Regions from separate parts of the Homo sapiens genome. Here region 2 is linked to region 1. A link means that fine-mapping ties the variant in region 1 to the expression of a gene that starts in the linked region. Tissue or cell type: blood mononuclear cells. Region 1 holds a variant in brackets; the other region holds the start of a gene. All regions are shown on one strand. Distances are between the middles of the regions. Region 1 overlaps TRPC6 (transient receptor potential cation channel subfamily C member 6). Region 2 holds the start of TRPC6 (transient receptor potential cation channel subfamily C member 6).

Region 1 (3,035 bases):
GTCATCAAAGTGAACAGGCAAACTACAGAATGGGAGAAAAATTTTGCAATTTACTCATCTGACAAATGGCTAATATCCAGAATCTAAAATGAACTTAAACAAGTTCACAAGAAAAAAACAACCCCATCAAAAAGTGGGCAGAGGATATGAACAGACACTTCTCAAAAGAAGACATTTATGCAGCCAACAAACAAATGAAAAAATGCTCATCATCACTCGTCATTAGAGAAATGCAAATCAAAACCACAATGAGATACCATCTCACACCAGTTAGGATGATGATCATGAAAAAGTCAGGAAACAACAGATGCTGGAGAGGATATGGAGAAATAGGAACCCTCTTACACTGTTGGTGGCAGTGTAAATTAGTTCAACCATTGTGGAATATAGTGTGGTGATTCCTCAAGGATCTAGAACTAGAAATACCATTTGACTCAGCAATCCCATTACTGGGTATATACCCAAAGGATTATAAATCATTCTACTCTAAAGACACATGCACACATATGTTTATTGTGGCAATGTTCACAATAGCAAAGACCTGGAACCAACCCAAATACCCATCAATGATATACTTGATAAAGAAATTGTGGCTCATATACACCATGGAATAGTATGCAGCCATAAAAAAGGATGAGTTCATGTCCTTTGCAGGGACATGAATGAAGCTGGAAACCATCATTCTCAGCAAACTAACACAGGAACAGAAAAACAAACACCACACGTTCTCACTCATAAGTGGGAGATGAACAATGAGAACACATGGACACAGGGAGGGGAACATCACACACTGGGGCCTGTTGGGGGTGGCGGGCTAGGGGAGGGATAGCATTAGGAGAAATACCTAATGTAGATGACGGGTTGATGGGTGCAGCAAACCACCATGGCACATGTATACCTATGTAACAAACCTGCATGTTCTGCACATATACCCCAGAACTTAAAGTATAATTAAAAAAAATGTTTGTTCAGTGGTCTTCAAATTAATTGACACTTTTTGAACTTTTCTAGGAATGTACTTGGAGCACCAGTAGTGCTATATGTAGAAACCCTGCCCTGTGAAATAACATTGTAGGAATTTGTTCAATTTATGAAGATCACCTAGCCTTTAAGTATGAGACTCCTATAAGAGTTATTGTTCTGAATGAAAAATAGGTCTGTATTAGTCTTTATACACACACACATACACACATAAACACAAACATCATATACAGTCAGCCCTATGTATCCATGGATCCTACACCCACTGATTCAACCAATTGTGGATCAAAAATATTT[GAAAT/G]AAATAAATAATAACCATACAACAATTAAAATATGGTAAATAAGCAATACAACAACTATTACACAGTATTTACATCGTATTAGGTTTTGTAAGTAATATAGAGATTATTTATAGTATATAGGAGGGTGTGCCTAGGTTATATGAAAATACTACCCCATTTTATATCAGGGACTTAAGCATCCATATATTTTGCTATCTGCGTGGGGAGTGGGGAACCCAAAACCAATCCCCTATGGATAGTAAGGAACAACTGTATATCTATCCATTACATTGCCCCAACAATTGATATAAACAAAACTTCTATTTTACAAGGCACATTAGCTAGTTTTGTAATCCATAAAATAGCTTTCTTGAGATTATTAGATCGTCTGGGTCTTTTGACTGCTAATCCAATACTCTGTTAACATTATTAAGTCTCTGATAAAAACCAAATAGTCAGATAAAACACTCATCTGGATTCAGCCTTAATACATTTCTTATAATTTAGCTAACACATTAGGAGTTGCCCCCTATTTCTTAAAATAATTTTTAGGTAGATGATGGAGAGGGCTTTATCATTTACCTTCCTTTAATTAAGACATCTTTCCACTTGCTTGAGATAGACTTCATTTTTCATATTAGCTACTAAACATAGGAATCAATTTTATCTGACCTATTTACACGTGTAGCATTTCTGGTGTTTTCTGGTTTTCACACAGATGGGCCCTTCATTTATTTGCTTGCCTATGATGTTCAACTTGTTCCGTTCTGTGAATAGGGCTATAAAGAAGAAGAGAGAGTGAAGATAAACTGAGTTCACAGGAAATAAAAAAATAATGGATCTAGTATCACATTTATAACTCTTTTTTTTTTTTTTTTTTTTTTTTTTTTTTTTGAGACGGAGTCTCGCTCTGTCGCCCAGGCCGGACTGCGGACTGCAGTGGCGCAATCTCGGCTCACTGCAAGCTCCGCTTCCCGGGTTCACGCCATTCTCCTGCCTCAGCCTCCCGAGTAGCTGGGACTACAGGCGCCCGCCACCGCGCCCGGCTAATTTTTTTGTATTTTTAGTAGAGACGGGGTTTCACCTTGTTAGCCAGGATGGTCTCGATCTCCTGACCTCATGATCCACCCGCCTCGGCCTCCCAAAGTGCTGGGATTACAGGCGTGAGCCACCGCACCCGGCCTTATAACTCTTTATCCTCATACTCATGTGATGAGATAAAGGAACCACTGCAAAGATTTCAAGATAACATGGAGGTTCCTCGGTAACAAGTTAGTGAATAAATACATGCATAAGTTAATGAATGAGTGAATGAAGTGACCAGAGAAACCTGACTTTGAATCTTGGCTTTTCCACTTAGTACCTAGAAAATTGGGCAAGCTACTTAGCCTTTCTGAGCTTTGGCTTTTTCATGTACAAGGTGGGAATTGTAATACTTACTTGTAACACTGATCTGAGTTTTAAACATGATGTATATAAAGCAACTATCATATCATTTGGGAAGCAGTGGATTTCAAAAAAAGTGAAGTGCAGCTGCAGGAAAATTGATGAAATTTAACTTCTATTCATGATTTTTTTAAAAAGATGTCTTTTACCAAACAAAGACTGTATACATATAACACAAATATCTATCAATAATAGAATGGATAAATAAAGGATGGTATATTTATACAAGGGATACTGTACAGTAATAAAATGAACTAGAGAGACTAAAATTTTATGAATGTCAAAATTATCAGGTGAACAAAATAAGCAAGAAATAAAAAATACAAA
Region 2 (2,500 bases), 38 kb after region 1:
CGCCCCGGGTGAAAAGGTTCGCGCCGCCGGTGGAGAGTCCTATTGGTTCTATTTCTGTCTTCACTCCAAGGCCCCAGGACCGGGGAGAGGTCCTGGTCTAACTTTGGCTGTCCCACGGTCCAAGGACCTCAGCGCTCAGCCCGAAACGCTAAGCCAAGCGTGGAGACCGCCGGGCGCACCCAGCACCCAGGCAGCTCCAACCCTTGGAGTTCTAGTCATCTCTCCCCCACATAGGCTAAGAGTCACCCGGGCGCACATCTGAATCAGCCCCCTGTTCAGATCCCGCCTGTTACGTAGCGATCCTGTCTCTTGTAGAGCGCAGGATGAAGGGGTCTGGAGAAATCGACCACCCATCTAATCACCTGCAATGGTGGTGTTACTATGCGGTCTCACTCTCGTGGGCAAACATATCCATGCGTACCTACGAGGAGCAAACCTAGACAACCCCGCCTCCCCCACTCCCCGCGCGCCCCTCCACTCACTCAGGTCCCAGCCCTGGCTCTCGCGGACCTCCCAGCACCGTCCTAGGAGGTACACACGCGGGTTCAGGACGCGCGCGGACGGACTCGGCCACTCCTGCGAGCGCACAACCTCCCTCCGCGCAGCCCGCGCCCGATCCGCCCCGCGTCGCCGGCACTCACAAGCAGGGGTAGTAGCCGTAGCAAGGCAGCGGGGCTTGCGGGCAGCCGTCTTCTCCCAGCTCCGAGTCCATGAGCAGATAGTCCTGGCTCTCGTTGCGCCGCGCAGCGGCTCCGGCAGCGCCCCGGGGAGAACTGCCCCTCCGGGGCCCGAACGCCGGGCTCTGGCTCATGGCGGGAACGCCCGACTGGCCTGGGCCCCGCTCCCGGGGGAGCCGAGTGGGCAGTTCCAGCGGGGACCCGGTGCGGAGGGTTCGCGTCAGCGGCCGAACTGGACCTGGGCAGACCGGTGCCCAGGGGACGACGGTGAAGCAGGGGGTGCAGACGCCCGCCGCAAGTGGCTCGCCCACTGGCCCGGGGAAAAGTCACCACTTAAGGGGGTGCAAAGAGGATCTTGACCTGAGCAGGTCAGGCCGAGGAGACCCCGCGAGGATGCGTCTGGGGCGCCCGGGCAGAGAGGGCACAGGCGGGGCCGCTGGTGGTAGCGAAGCGTAAGAGCGGAGAGCAAGGGAGACGGAGCTGAAGAGTTACTATGTCAACAGAGACTCTCCAGCCCTCAGCTCCCGCCTTCATCCCCCGCACTCTCCGTCAAGATCCCCACCTTTAAAGGGATCCGAGCGACGTTCTAGAAAGCAGCCAAAGCCTGTCCTGTAGCCACAACTTTCAGGAGGCGGTATGAGCCTGAACTAGGAGGAGCCAGGCACGCACTCTTTTTTTCCCCTCCACTATTTAGTTGGCTCATTTAGTAAGGATACCAACTGCGGACTTCGTAGGAAGCTTCCTTTAAGAACCACTCTCAAAGAGCCAAGGAAACCTGTTCCTTAAAAGGGACACGAGCCTCTTCTTTCTCCAGACTGCCTTCATTTTCTTTGGTCATTTTCTCTCTTACCCTCAACTCATAAAGTTATTATGACTCTGCTTTAAAAATGAACAACGTTCTATGTTCCAAACGCCAGATGTTCCCAGTTCCTGAGAAAACCAACAAAAATAGGCAAGCATTTTCCAATGATACCGATAAAGAGGCCAACAACCTGCTTACTTCAGAGAAAAAATTTTCCTTCCGTCACTGCGAATGCAAGAATGATTTCTCTGCCAGATGTTTCCCACGTTTCCAAGCTGTTTTATTTTTAAGACTTAGTTTTAAATTCTGATTAATATGCATACGTGTGAGAAGTAAAAACTTGTCAACAAGGATGAATCAGTATTTGTAGACCTTTAAGCAGTAGTAGCCAATTAAGAATCCATTCATTAAGTCAACAAATATTTAATGAATGCCAACTGCGTTTCAAATCATTTCAGAATTCGGAGGCAAAGAAGCAGATGAGGCACCTGTCTGCCCTCATAGAGCTTTCGTGGCAGAAAGGGGGACCAATTAAATAAGCAAATGAAAAAATATCAAGGACAAATGCTACAATGAAAATAAAACAGGTTGATGTGATGGCAGCTGGTGAATGACTACTTCAGATGAGATGGTTAAAAGAGGCCCCTCCAAGGAGGTGCTCGTTAAGTTGAGACATGCATGGCAAGCAGCCAGCCATGAAAAGATCAGAGGCCCATTGCAATTGGATGAAAGAAAGCCAGACTGAAATCTGTCTGCAAAGGTGCCTTTGCTTCCCATGAACAGGTGGACAACAAAATGAATGTTGGAAGTGTGGGAAAATGCAATTGATTTGATAGAAGGGAAAAGAGCTCACACATTTAGAAACTTCTGAGTTTGCCTTTAAATTTAGAACTGAAACTCAGAGAGAGCAGAAACCACTGTGTCCTGAGGATCCAGCTTCGTATTTGACACAGGTGTGTAGGGTGCATGCATGCATGCTTGGGTGGGTGAGTGGGTGGGTGGGTGGATGGATGGATGGATG

The links.
Region 2: TRPC6 starts here. The variant in region 1 is fine-mapped to the expression of TRPC6 in blood mononuclear cells (TOPMed, PIP above 0.99).

What each region holds. Positions count from the first base shown.
Region 1 is chr11:101,543,927-101,546,961 of GRCh38, forward strand. All of the region lies in intron 1 of TRPC6 (transient receptor potential cation channel subfamily C member 6), which reads right to left. Among named protein-coding and RNA genes, the nearest start is that of MIR3920, 26 kb to the left of the region's middle. The variant GAAAT/G (reference allele first, on the strand shown) is at 1,279.
Region 2 is chr11:101,582,693-101,585,192 of GRCh38, forward strand. TRPC6 (transient receptor potential cation channel subfamily C member 6) reads right to left here and starts at 1,315. Exons shown (of 13, transcript NM_004621.6): 1 at 642-1,315. The coding sequence starts at 811.